Linked DNA regions of Homo sapiens. The protein of the gene in region 3 purifies or fractionates together with the protein of the main gene of each other region. This does not show direct contact. Each region holds a gene or a part of one and is shown on either strand. Other genes may lie near its edges.

The links.
Region 1: the proteins of PHF14 (region 3) and ANAPC1 fractionate together in Homo sapiens (co-fractionation; one large-scale study listed by BioGRID). This does not show direct contact.
Region 2: the proteins of PHF14 (region 3) and MIER1 purify together in Homo sapiens (affinity purification with mass spectrometry, with the first as the bait; one large-scale study listed by BioGRID). This does not show direct contact.
Region 4: the proteins of PHF14 (region 3) and MRPL39 purify together in Homo sapiens (affinity purification with mass spectrometry, with the first as the bait; one large-scale study listed by BioGRID). This does not show direct contact.

What each region holds. Positions count from the first base shown.
Region 1 is NC_000002.12:111,860,006-111,863,780, reverse strand, and holds part of ANAPC1 (anaphase-promoting complex subunit 1), read left to right. Parts: coding exon 1-106; intron 107-1,182; coding exon 1,183-1,392; intron 1,393-3,775. UniProt on the Homo sapiens protein: Component of the anaphase promoting complex/cyclosome (APC/C), a cell cycle-regulated E3 ubiquitin ligase that controls progression through mitosis and the G1 phase of the cell cycle.
Region 2 is NC_000001.11:66,959,460-66,963,234, forward strand, and holds part of MIER1 (mesoderm induction early response protein 1), read left to right. Parts: intron 1-219; coding exon 220-284; intron 285-3,628; coding exon 3,629-3,701; intron 3,702-3,775. UniProt on the Homo sapiens protein: Transcriptional repressor regulating the expression of a number of genes including SP1 target genes. Probably functions through recruitment of HDAC1 a histone deacetylase involved in chromatin silencing.
Region 3 is NC_000007.14:10,980,191-10,983,965, forward strand, and holds part of PHF14 (PHD finger protein 14), read left to right. Parts: intron 1-2,181; coding exon 2,182-2,969; intron 2,970-3,775. UniProt on the Homo sapiens protein: Histone-binding protein. Binds preferentially to unmodified histone H3 but can also bind to a lesser extent to histone H3 trimethylated at 'Lys-9' (H3K9me3) as well as to histone H3 monomethylated at 'Lys-27' (H3K27ac) and trimethylated at 'Lys-27' (H3K27me3).
Region 4 is NC_000021.9:25,585,008-25,587,945, reverse strand, and holds the end of MRPL39 (large ribosomal subunit protein mL39), read left to right. Parts: intron 1-156; coding exon of another isoform or gene 157-249; exon of another isoform or gene 250-336; intron 337-2,191; coding exon 2,192-2,239; 3' UTR 2,240-2,290; downstream 2,291-2,938.

The DNA.
Region 1 (3,775 bases), on a different chromosome or scaffold from region 3:
CTTCACCTTTCCAGAATTACTCCTCCATTCACAGCCAGAGTCGCTCAACCTCATCACCCAGTCTACATTCTCGCTCACCTTCTATTTCCAACATGGCAGCTCTAAGGTATAAGGGTTTCCTGGTTTTTCTTTCTAAGCTTTCTGTTTTGTTTTGAAGGATTTAGAATTTCTGTTGACAGCTGTTTTTAGGGGAAATATATTTAGGGGAGATGTTTTTTAGGGGAAATAGCCATTATCCCAATTGAGCCTTTTTTTTTTTTTTTTTTTTTGAGACGGAGTCTTGCTGTGTCACCCAGGCTGGTGTGCAGTGGCGCAATCTTGACTCACTGCAAACTCTGCCTCCCGGGTTCATGCCATTCTCCTGCCTCAGCCTCCAGCTGGGACTACAGGCGCCTGCCACCATGCCTGGCTGAGTTTTTTTTTTTTTTGTATTTTTAGTAGAGATGGGGTTTCACCGTGTTAGCCAGGATGGTCTCGATCTCCTGACCTTGTGATCTGCCTGCCTTGGCCTCCCAAAGTGCGGGGATTACAGGCGTGAGCCACCGTGCTCAGCCCTGAGCCACTTTTACTAAGATTTCTAAGTTTACCATGTCACATTCTTTCCTGAGTCATATTTTGAAGCTGCCTATGCTTGACCTAAGGTTAGTTGCCTCATTTCTACCACTATGTGGGCAACAGTTTGATGAATATTAATTCCCAAAATACTGTGGCACTATTTTATTTTTGCCTTAATTTATGTTAGTTTTTCTTTTTTTTTTACTTGTTATTTGATATGTAAATGTATCTATTTCTCTATATAGATATATATTTAAATGACCAGATATGTATATCTGGTGCTACAGGGACATTGTTTTGTTGATAAATATATATGTCTGACTATACAGGGACATAGTTTAGAGCTTTTTGAATAATCATTCATTTTCCGAAAAAGAAGATGATCTAAGTTTTAGTTGTAAAAGATGAGTTCTTCTAATAATAATTCTAAATCTTTAGAATATAGTAAAGCACATTGACATGAACCATTTAAATAGCTACTCCTTTTTGAAAAATTTTAATTTCTGACCTGGATTATGCCATGAATGCTCTTCTGTCTGTGGAATTTTTGGAAGTGTCATTGGAGTGTGTGTCATATAAGCCTGCCTTGCTAACTGTGATGTACTCTCTCCTCTGTTTATTTTGCAGTCGTGCTCATTCTCCTGCGTTAGGAGTGCACTCTTTTTCAGGGGTGCAAAGGTTCAACATTTCAAGCCATAATCAGTCTCCAAAGAGACATAGTATTTCTCATTCTCCAAATAGTAATTCTAATGGCTCCTTTCTTGCACCAGAAACGGAGCCAATTGTTCCTGAACTGTGTATTGACCATTTGTGGACAGAAACGATTACTAATATAAGGTTTGTTATATATATTATTATATTCAAAGAAAAATGTTGCTGAAAGTCTTGGGAAATATATGGCATTTTGTTTAAAGTTTCCTTTTAATGTGATCAGTTATTAATATATGTAAAAATATATAGAGATATGTATTAAGGCCACCTCAGTTTCAGTAGAGGATATTAATGATATTAAAGTGATCATAGGCTGGACGTGGTGGTTCATGCCTGTAATCCCAGCACTTTGGGAGGCTGAAGCTGGTAGATCACTTGAGCCTAGGAGTTCGAGACCAGCCTGGCCAACATTGTGAAACCCTGTCTCTACTAAAAATACAAAAATTAACTGGGTGTGGTGGTGCATACTTGTAATCCCAGCTACTCAGGTGGCTGAGGCAGAATTGCTTGAACCCAGGAGGCTGAGCTTGCAGTGAGCTGAGATCGTGCCACTGCACTCCAGCCTGGGTGACAGAGTGAGACTATCTCAAAAAAAAAAAGTCATCATAAAAATATTATTTTGTCATCTGATATTTCTTCCTTTATAGTAATAATCTCTCATTTTTCGGGTGTTTTTTGTTCTGGGGAGAAACAGTTAATTTCCATCCGTGAGGAAATGTGGGGTTTTAGCACGTTTCCTAAGTTTTATGTTCATGTTAGTTGAGTGCCAGCTTTACTTTTTGGGAAACATAGCTTAGATCTCTGTTCTGGGTGACCTTTCTTCTTTTATATTCTCTTTAATAATTCACGTGTTAATTTATATGCCAATGTGTGTGCTAGTTAACAGTCTAATAAGTCACTGTCCCTGTCCTCAAAAGAGGCAGATAGCTGAAGGATGGTGACACAGGAGGGACTACTTTTGCTGGTAGGGCTTTGAAAGACGAATAGGTATTCGCTAGGCAGGGAAGTTGAGAAAGACCACAGACGGCAGCTGGGATCAGAACAAAAGTTCTGGTGAGTGCGTGGTGTATTTAGGGAATTACAAGTACTTCCACTCTGGTTTTTGCAGAGGGGAGGGAAAAGGCTAATGAAGAGGAGGCTTCCTAGGCGCAGTGGCTCACACCTGTAATCACTCACTTTGGGAGGCTGAGGCAGATGGATCACTTGAGCTCAGGAGTTCAAGACCAACCTGCCCAAAATGGTGAAACCCCATGTCTACTACAAATACAAAAATTAGCCAGGCATGATGGCGTGCATCTGTAGTCCCAGCTACTCTGGAGGCTGAGGTGAGAGAGTCATTTGAACCTGGGAGTTGGAGGTTGCAGTGAGCCAAGAGCACACTACTGCACTCCAGCTTGGGCAACAGAGTGAGACTGTCTGAAAAAGAAAAAAAGGAGGCTTGAGAGATTACTGATTGCCCTTTAGGCCTCTGGTATGTTTGATGACAGCGGTAAGAAGGCACTTTATAAGTGTGTCGGAAGTTTGGGAAAGAGCAGAACAATAAATGTGGAATTGTCAGCTTATAGGTGGTGATTGAGGTAAGAGAATTAGATTAGAATTGAAGAATTATTGTATTCAATAATTGTGTGTACATGTAGTATATAGGCCTTTTCCCAAGGAGAGGGTTTTAACATTCCTTAGATTCTCAAAGGGATTTGTGGCCTCCAAATAGTTAAAATCCAGTGGTGTAGAATGAGAAGAGGGCTAGGAACTGAAGTCCTGGAAACTTAAGATTTGGGGAATGGAAAGAGACAAAGCTGGCACAGAGAGACAAAGCAAAAGAGGTCAGATGGGAGAAGCAGCAGGAAATACAGAATACAAAAAAGAACATTTCAAGAATACAGAGATGCCAGTATTGCCAGGTACTGGTGAAGTGTGGCCCTGAGAGTTGAACCCAGAGAGGAGGTACCTGGGTGGCAGTGGGTTCCTTGGTGACCTTGGCCAGAGCATTTTAAGCTGGGAGGGTGGCGGGGGAAAGTGGGGTAGAAAAAGTAAATGGGGACTGAGGAAATGAACATAGGCATACAGACTCTTTAAGGAGTTTGCCTTTGAATAGGAATGAAGATACAAAATTAGAGGGAGTCTTGGTCAAGGAGAGTTTTGTTTTTGCTGAACTATAATAAAATTAGTTTTCATGACATCTTGCCCCAGTATTTTCTTTTTCTTTTTTTTTGAAACAGGGTCTCACTCTGTCACCCAGGTTGGAGTACAGTGAGTGACTCAATCACAGCTCACTGCAGCCTTGGCCTTCTGGGCTCAGGTGATTCCCCAACCTCAGCCTCCCAGATAGCTGGGACTATAAGCACACACCGCCACGCCTGACTAATTTTTTGTAATTTTTGCAGAGAAAGGATTTTGCCGTGATGCCCAGGCTGGTCTCAAACTCCTGGGCTCAAGCAACCTGCTTGCCTCTGCCTCCCAAAGTAATGGGATTACAGGTGTGAGCCACTGTGCCTGGCCCCCAGTATTT
Region 2 (3,775 bases), on a different chromosome or scaffold from region 3:
ATCATTTCATGAGAATACAATTATGTAGAAAGTTTATGGTTTTTTTGGTTTTGTTTTTTTAAGTGATAGGGTGTTAATTATTTGGTTAGAAATATCTTGGCTTAATTCATTAGATATCTTTGAGCATATCCAAATATTTGATGGTAGATGTAAAAATAATATGTAGATTTAGACAGGATAAGCAGTCATTTTATAGTATTGGTGTCTTATTTATTCTAGATAGTGAAGTAGAAGAAGAATCTGAAGAAGATGAAGATTATATTCCATCAGAAGACTGGAAAAAGGTAGTTAGAACAATATTTTCCCAAAATTTAGATAAATTAATATTTTTTTAAAAAGCCTCGTGTAATTATTTTTTTTTTTACTAACTATGTATATTGATAAAATCGATGTAAGCCCTTTTATGACATTTAAATGTTTGGTAAATGTTCAGATTCCTTCTTAACACATCTAGGTTAGATTAGAAATCTACATTTCTGGCGGGGTGTGGTGGCTCACGCCTGTTATCCCAGCACTTGGGAGGCTGAGGCAGGCGGATCGCTTGAGCCCAGGAGTTCGAGACCAGCCTGGGCAGCGTTGCGGGACCCTGTCTCATTTTATAAAACAAAACAAAAAATAAATAAAACAGAAATCCACATTTCTGATTTAGTCCTGAACTAGTGCCAAATTAGGCATTTGTTGCCCTGTAAAAAGTATCACGTATATGTTTTTCAATATTATGGAAAGCATTTGTGGAGGCTTTGATATTTGTTAAGTAAATTTTGTTTAGTAGTTCATATTGCAAGTTTTTCATTCTGTATTACTTTATAAAAGAAAAACTCTCCAAATGATTGAATTTAATGTTGACATTTACAACTGATAAGCTTATTATATGAAGAAACAGATTTGGCTTCTTCGTAACTATATACAATTAATTTCTGAAATGAATCTAAAGATAATATATTGAGATTAGTTTTTAATTATAAAATTATATAGCATATAATTAATCATACAGTTAAGTTAAAGAATTGTAAGTTATTGTAAAAGAACTGAGCTCTTAGGAAAAATCTATCTAAACATTATGTAGAATTAGCTGGTTGCAGTGATGTTTCCCCTGTTGTCCCAGCTACTTGGGAGGCTGAGGTAGGGAGAATCACTTCAGCCCAGGAGTTTGAGACCAGGCTGGGCAACATAGTGAGACCCCATGTCTTCAAAAAAATTTTTTATGTAGAACTGGTTAAAACAAAGAAATAATGTTATTTTTGTTGAGAGACAAGGTTAGCCCAGTTTACGGTATGTGTTAATTTGAGCAAATGATGGGACTCGACAGAAAACAAGAATCACAAAAGTTAATTTGTGTGGCCTATTTGGGCAAGGGTTCTTTCATCCTGTTTTTAATCTGATTCCTACAGTGTGCAGAAATTAAGATGAAAAAAGCTAGAAACCTTGGGAGTCCTTATAAATTGCTGTCCCACTTCATATTCAAGTTTATGTATCTTCAACATGTGTTGTTTTTTAATCTGGAGTGTTCAGTAGAGTATTTGATTAAGCATTCAGTGTTTTTTTTTTAAATGAAAGAACAAAAGCTCAGAGGTAGAACACCTCTCATTGCTGGAGGGTATTAATTACCCACACCTTACTCAGAAAGGGTATTAATTAACCACACCTTTCTCAGAAAAAAATTATGTAATAAAGCAGGCCAGAGTAAATGCAGATTGTTTTCTTTCAGTATGATTTTGTTGTTTTAAATAATTGTCAAGGTTCAGAGATTCATTTTTTTTTAAGACTTATAAGATGAAATTGAGTTTTTATAGAAACTTAAGGTAGGGGAAACAGTTTTGAAGTCAAACCTGAATTTTAGTTGTAGCTCTAGAACTTAGTAATTGTGTGCTCCTGAGAAAATCAAATTTTTGAGCTTCATCTTCTTACATATAGTATGGGAATAACAATGTCAGCCTTATGGGGCTTGCTGAAAGATTAAAGGAAAATTGCATATATGATATGTTAACACATAATGATCTTCAAAGCTATTTCCCTTCCCTTCCCTGTACTACCGAACAAATTAACAGATGAAAAGAAATGTTCAGAACTGAACAGGAAAAAGGAAGTACCTATCTTTAAACTAATCCAGATGTTCTCAACCCTGTTTTTATGTTAGAATCATTTGGATAACTTAGATGTACTGACTACCAGGGCCTTCATTCATAGATTCTAATTTAATTGTCCTGCAGTGGATCCAGGCATTGATGGTTTAGAAGCACCCCAGCCAGGGTTAGTAACTTGACAATGTTCTTTGGTAGGCCTAGGTGAGTTAAGTTAAAAGAGGCACAAGATGTGACAATAAAGGACTCTTTTTATAGTAGAAGACATAAAGAGAATTCCATTGTAAGGGTAGAGAAAATTTGTTGTAAGTTTGATTCTTTTTAGAAAACTGATCATGAGAAAGATTGGTTTTTCTTATGGGTATAGAAATAACTTTATTACATAAAGCACGTCTTTGAAGTTGTACTGGATAAAATGAGCTCCTCACATCAGTGAGGTAACAATAGCAGGAGAGAGACTTTCCAAATCCTAAGAGTTACCAAAACTTCTAGACCATGATTTTGTACCTTTCATGCCCAATTTTGAAAATGTCAGTAAATGTGTTCTTAACATTTAGCCATCACACAAAAGAGGGTTCATGTAATCTTGGTCTCCTTGCATTGTGAAATTTCACCAGTGGTAGTTTGCAGTTGCTTTTGAGAACATCCAGTTTCACCTAATCTGTGATTTGACTGTATAGATATGATTACTGGATTTCCTATTTAATTATATTTGTGGGAGGAGGTTACTTTTTCATTTTGTATTGTTTTAATGAAAGTCAAGCCATAACCTGCTTATCTATTTCATTTAGAGTTTCTTTCATTTGGCCCCTACTGAGCTTTATACAAACCCTTTTTGTTATTTTTCCTACTTTGAAGCTCTGTTTTTCAGACTTCAGTCTATGTCAGAATCACCTAGAGAGCTTGTTAAAATACCAATGACTGAGTCCTGTCCCCAGAGTTTCAGTAGGTTTGGGGTGGGACCTGAGCATTTGCATTTCTAACAGTTTCCCATTAGCTGTGTGTGGTGGCATGTGCCTGTAGTCCCAGCTACTCAGAGACTGAGGTGAGAGAATTGCTTGAGCCTGGGAGGTCGAGGCTGCAGTGAGCCATGATCACTCCAGCCTAGGTGACAGAGCAAGACCCTGTCTCAAAAAAACAAAAATTTCATAGATGACACTGATGCTGCTCATATAGGGATCATATTTAAGACCACTGTCTTAAGTGTAGATACTCTGAAAATATCTGAATTTGACTTTGTGTTTTACATGTTTTGCAGTTGTCTTACTAATGGAATTATCAGAATTCACTTCTTTGTCTCTATATTTTGAAATAAAGTTTGTATTTATTGTTTACGTTGCATTTCACCTCAGTATTATTACTAATATTTTCATCCAGTCATTATTTGTCATTCATCTTCACAAAGGTACCTCTGAGGTAGTTAATTGGTTGTTTTTGTATTTTATGACAGAGAAACCAGGAACAGTTTACTAAGATGGTAAGGCTAGAAAATGGATATAAAATCTGTTACTAGATCTTACTAATGTTTTATGTTATTTTTAAAATAGGAGATTATGGTGGGCTCCATGTTTCAAGCAGAAATTCCAGTTGGCATTTGTAGATACAAAGAAAATGAAAAAGGTGGGTTATTAGTAAAGTTACGTAGCTGAATTTATGCTTTCAGTGTAATGAACTGTTACTTTATATGTAAAATG
Region 3 (3,775 bases):
GTTAATCTTACTTTTGCGTCTATCGTGAAGTTTTGATTGATAAAAAGCCTTCTAGAAGGTTGATCCAGAAGAAAAGTACCTTTTCTTTCATCTTCATCTCCTAGCTCTCTTAATTATGGCATTGCTTCCCTTCTAGAGCCTAAGGTGTTTCAGTTTTCTTTAGTCAGTGTGCATAAAAAATCTTTCTGTGTCTTAGAAGTGTTGAGTCAACTCTGGTTATTATTTATTAAATCATAATTTTAAAATGTCAAGAGATTACTATTATTGTTATTTTTACCAGATGTGATTTTTCTTGGTAGGTTGGGTTTAATTGCTGTGAGTGGTTTACAAAATCATAATTTTCTTAATGCTTTAGAGACTGAAAAGAAGTCACTTGTTTGTGAGTAATATTGGGTCCACACTCTTGAAATCCAAGAAGCTTAAAAATCCAAGTGTTTTGTAAGGTTCACACAAACTTACTTGATGGCAAAGCCTAACGGAACTGGTAGGAGTTTATTTGTAGTATTTATTTCTCATACTCTGTAAATAGGATTTATACTTTTCTCCGCAGAAATAATGTTTGATTATAGGATAATACCATGGACTTCACTGGGGGTATTAGTGTAATATATGGTGCATGTTCCATGTTACCCTTGAAAATCTGAGAAATTATGAATTCTGAAACACATCTGGTTCTTAAAGTTTCAGATAGGGAATTGCTGACCCGTATGATATTGCTCTTGTATCCTATGCAAGGTTGTTTAGGATAAGAGTGTTTTTTTCAGAACAGTCCCAAGTAAGCTATGGATACCTACATGACAGTTGTGAGATTGATAATGATTTCATAGGGTCAGTCAGTATCTGTTAAATGTTAGTGTTTATTTTTTATGCAATTTTGCTTGCAGGATGTTTTTGTTAGCAGTCATTTGTATGTGACTTGTGGGGTTCACTAGATACCAGATACTAATTACAGACAGCTTCCTTCAATTTTAGTGCTTAGTTAATTACAGAGGTTAAGCCTAGTTGAGTTAATAGAAATTAAAATGATGTGGAAACACTTTACTTTTTCCACCATTTTATCATTACCTTTTTCTTGGCTATAGGTGCAAAAAAATTCATCATCCTGTGGATTTTACTGGCTAAGACTTAACTGGTTTCTTCCCCATCTCCTACTGCTCCCTGTCCTCTTTCCCTCCTCCCATTTATTTCTCGCTTCAAAGATTTTAGATTGTTATTTACTTAATTGGGTACAAAAAGAATGATTACTGAGTACTTACTGAGTAATGATTACTGAGTTACTAAGTAGTGTTGGGTTGAGAGGGACTGGGCTGCCCTAGGCAGGAGTGGAAGAAACCTGCTAGAAAGCTTACAGTCCTGTGAGCTCTTTAATGTCTTCAGCCTAACTTTTTAGTAACCTCTGTGACTGCTCATTTTCAGGATGGACTGCTTTATTCATCAATTTCTTCCATTCTAGAGCATATAGTAGTTACTGCGTAGAAGTTTTGAAAGTGTAGTGACTCTTCTTTTATTGATACGAACAGTATCCTAATAAACAGGAAGATTGATAATTTCTCTTGCAACTTCCTTTTTCTGTGCCATTGCTGTTGTCTCTTTTCACCTGTGTTCTTGGTATTCCTAAAATTTGTTTGGTATATTAGAGTTGTAGTATAAGTTGACTATCATAAATATCTATGCTTATTTTACTGGGTAAAGAGTAAAATAAATGAAGCAGTTTTATGGGTTAGATTTATCTTGTTTTGGTTTTGACTCAATACTTACAAGTCCATATAGTTTATAAAAGATGTTTAAGGGAGGAAGAATTTTGTCTGTATTATCAGTAAAATTAAAATCAAGTGCCCAATCTTAAAAGAAGCACATTTACTTTAAAAAATAATTGCCTTTTCAGTACCAAATATTGCCATATGACACAAATTAGTGCTTCTCTTTTTAAAGCATATTTTAATTTAGGGTTATCTATATTCATCTTCATTAGCACTATACTGAACTAAAACCATTGTATCAACTTCATTGATTTATTATTTGATCAGGTTGGGAATGTCTACCATTCTTTGACTTAAATTTGTTTATATTGTTTTGCAAGTTATTCACAAATTTTGGTGGTTTCATTTGTGTCAGCGTTGTGTGTGTGTGTGTGTATGTATATACATATGTGTGGTTTTTTTTTTCTCATATTTTCAACAGATTCTGAAGGGAGTGGTAATGGAAGTGAAGATGCTTCAAAGGACAGTGGAGAAGGTTCCTGTAGTGATTCTGAAGAAAATATTTTAGAAGAAGAACTGAATGAAGATATTAAAGTAAAAGAAGAACAACTTAAAAATTCTGCAGAGGAAGAAGTACTATCATCAGAAAAACAATTAATTAAAATGGAAAAGAAGGAAGAAGAAGAAAATGGAGAAAGACCTAGAAAGAAAAAGGAGAAAGAGAAGGAAAAAGAAAAGGAAAAGGAGAAAGAGAAGGAAAGAGAGAAGGAAAAAGAAAAAGCAACAGTATCTGAGAATGTGGCTGCTTCTGCTGCTGCCACCACACCAGCCACAAGTCCTCCTGCTGTTAACACATCCCCTTCTGTTCCCACTACGACAACCGCTACAGAGGAACAAGTCAGCGAGCCAAAAAAATGGAACCTTCGACGAAACCGACCACTTCTGGATTTTGTGTCCATGGAAGAGCTGAATGACATGGATGACTATGACAGTGAGGATGACAATGATTGGCGACCTACTGTAGTAAAGAGAAAAGGGAGATCTGCGTCTCAGAAAGAGGGAAGTGATGGAGACAATGAGGATGATGAAGATGAGGGAAGCGGGAGTGATGAAGACGAGAATGATGAAGGCAATGATGAAGATCATAGTAGCCCTGCCAGTGAAGGGGGTTGCAAGAAGAAGAAGAGTAAAGTTCTTAGCAGAAACAGTGCTGATGATGAGGAACTGACCAATGATAGCCTGACCCTATCTCAAAGCAAGAGTAATGAGGTAGATCAACCCAATTTTTATATCTGTCTGTCTGGGGAAAAGGGAATTCTTCTCTAAATCACTCTACACATTGTATTAAGTGGCTTCCTTGAAATCCTATTTATAGACGGCTGTGGGATGAATGAGCACCCTAACTGTAACATTTTTTCATTTGGCCAACAGACTTTTATTAAATATCTACTATTTGTCACCGTTCTCAAGGAGCTCACAATCTCTGTCCTCAAGGAGAAATATTTAGAGAAATATTTTTATATCCATAGACTTGGGAAATGACAAAGTTTTCCATTCTCCTTTTTATCCCTTTACTCCTTTGTTCACAGGACTGCTGAATGGTGCTGAGTGCATTATGAAAACAAAGGTCACCTTTCTTTCAACTTAGTTGTGTCCATATCCATATTAAAATATAGGCCTTTAGAATACCTTAGAGCAGGGCAACAGTCTAATGATTTTCTGAAACCTTTAGAGATTCGTTTTAAATATTAATTCCTTTACCAGTTGTAGCACTCATCATCTTTTTAGTCACCAAATCTTTGCTTTATGTGTATGGGACATACACATAAGTATGAACTATTTTTACATATATTTAGTAAATAAATTCTCTCTACAAAGAAATGGAATAAAAACCCAAACATTTCCATCATAAAACAGACATTTTTGTCACAAAACTGCAGTAATGGCTCAGTGCTTCTACTTGAAGTTCTACTACTGAAAGTTAGGTTTATTCATTGATCTCAGAGATGCATCATTCAAGACTCTTCAGTCAAACACATTTGTGTCTCTTTGTCTGTGTGTTTTTGTATATGTTT
Region 4 (2,938 bases), on a different chromosome or scaffold from region 3:
AGCTGTCCTGTGTAATCTGTCCTCATTAGGACTTCCTCCTTATCCTAATTTCCCACAATGCCACAAACACTGGTTAAGCTTGCAGGCACATTAAGCATCACACATTAAACTTATTTTCAAGTTTGCTTATTTCTTCATGATAGTTTTTCTTTCTAGACTCCATTTCCCATTCTCCTTCTATTTACTACGCAGTCATTCTTCACTACCTCGCCTGAGTCGTACCTCCTCCATGGAACAGTCTCAGAGTAATCTCTAACAAATAATTATTCATATAAGTTTGTGCTTGATTGTATATGTCCACATACTATTTTTTGATTGTTTTCTTTGCCAGTACATTTATTTTCTGTCTGTTAAGCCTTTCAGGATTTGTTATATTTGTGTAAGCCCAAATTTTGAACACAACATTAGCACATGAAGGGGTTACCCAAGAAATATTTATTGACAATTTTTCATAATGATATATAAACCTAGTCTTTATTAATGACTATGTAGATAGGAATTATTGTTTAGGGACTTCACCATAATGTTCTTGAGTAAGGGTTATATAATTTTTTTTCTCATGAGAAGAAATTACCTTTGAATGGATGGAGTAATTTTCTCTTTTTAGTTGGTCACAGTGATCATTTTAGATGAAGAAACTAAAGAAAAAATGTTCAGCATGTTTACTTGGAGTTAAGTAAAATTAAAAAAAATTTAAAAAGCTAAAGAATATTAAAGAAATAGTTTGGAAAATTAAAGAAGCAGTAGTAACTGAACACTTTAAAGGAATGAAAAATGTAGAAAAACGGCAGAGACAGTGTCTTACCTAGAATATCTAGTGATGTTAGTCAATACATATTTTTTCAAACATTTATTCTGGTTTAGTTGCTTTTTTCTACTGTCCATTTTGCTTTTCTGAAGGGATTAGATTAAACGTGGTTCATTGATGCAACACAGACTTACTGATTGTTTATTGTGTGCCAGGTACTGTTATGGTCTGGAGGTACAAAAAAATGCACAAAATTTACTTGCTGCCTCAGGGAAGTAATGTTGATTGGATAATTAGACTTATAAGCAGACAGTTCAGGTGTACATGTGGGGCTCTGGCATAAAGAAGAGGACTCAGACCAAGCTGGGGAGTTGCTTAAGGAAGGCTTCCAGGAATTGGAGTCTCTTAAGCTGATTTTAAAGGGTGAATAAAAGTGGACCATGCAGATAATCTGTTGGAAAATGGGTTGGAGGTTATCTCAGAGGAAGTCACTTGCCTACATAGAGAACATGATGAATGTAAGATGAATTTGAATGTACAGGTCACATGTAGGATAGGTAAAGAGTCAGTCCAAAAACAGAATATGAGGGGCTTGTGTCCCGTGTTGTGGAACTTGCATTCCTGACTTTCCTCCTCCACCCCACTGAGATGCTAGAGAGTAACTGGAGAATTTTGAGTAGGGAAGTGACCTGTTGATCAGCTATTCTTGTTTAAAAGCTCATTCTAGGGGTAGCATGGGATATAGCTGTGACTTAAGCCAAGAGTTCTGTTAGGGGGATAGAAGAGAATGAGGTCCTAAAGTTCAGCCGCGATAGGGAGAATGACTGTGAGAGTTAACTTAGGCTGAATTAGTAGGACTGTTGATGGAATATGCAGGTAGGAAGAAGAGAGTGAATTCTTGAATGCTGTCCTTAGGTATCTGGGTGGAGCCCTTTACCAAGATAGATGATGCAGGTAGGACAGGTTTTGGGGTGTTGAATTCAGATTTAGCCATGTCTGTTTGATGAGTCTGAGTGACACAGAATAGAAATAGGGACATAGAGATATCTATTTAGACTAAATCTGTAATATGTTCTATTCTAAATGGAATTATACTCCAAAAGAAAATAAACTGATTTAAAATAGCTTGTTACAGCACTTCAGGTGTTTTTTCTTACACTAATGATTTTGTTTTACGGCTGAAAAGTAAAATGGCCAACTTGAGAAGCCTAGGTATAATATGCCTTAGATTATATTTTTGAATGGAATTATTGTTCTTTACCTGATAATTTATATTGGTTACTTGGCCTTTAAATCTTTCTTCTTACCTAACTTTCTATTCTACTATTTAAGGGGAAAGATAAAGGGTCATTATAAGAGGGCTGTGGAATGATTTAAAATGGTGGGTGAAGGGTAAAACTGAAAGTGTTTATTAGGAAAGTAAAGCTATTCATGTTTTTACAGGTAACTGAAGATCAAAGTAAAGCAACAGAGGAATGTACATCTACCTAATAACTTTCTAAAATTTAAATATGTATAATAAAATAAATGTTTTAAATATAATGTTTGTGTGTGCTTATACAGATTAACCCTTTCTCCCCAAGATTGATAGTGATCTTTACTTTTTCTTTTCTCTAAAGTATGAAACACTTCATGTTGCTTAAGTAAAAACTGTACAAAAACAGGTCACTCCCTTCCTGCTCCATGGATGCAACACTTTAGCATGTTTTCTCTATTTTTTCCTACAGATCTAGGCAGATACATACAAATATAAATGTAATTTCTAAAAAACATAAATAGGACCATACTATACTTGCTTGCGTTTTTTGCCGAACAGTGGCACAGTAAACATCCTTGTGCAAAAATGGCAAATGTTTGTAGATAAGTAATATTAACTGAGTATTTATCATGTGCTGGGTCTTGTGCGAAGCCCATCACGTGTGGAACCTTTTCTATAATCCTCATAGTGACCTGTTGAGAAGATGTTTCTATTTTTTAAATGAGGAAACAGCATAGAGCTTGAAAGTGGTAAAGTGGGAATTTGAACGGAGGTAGTTTCACTCACATGCTCTTATGTTCTACTCTATGTTGCCTCACGTATAAATAATTCTGTAGAAATAGATTTCTGGCAGTGGAATTACTGTCAGGTGCTACCAGATGCTGGCTTCCCAAAGGTTTTGCCAAGTGTTACTCCCAATAACTGTCTAAGAG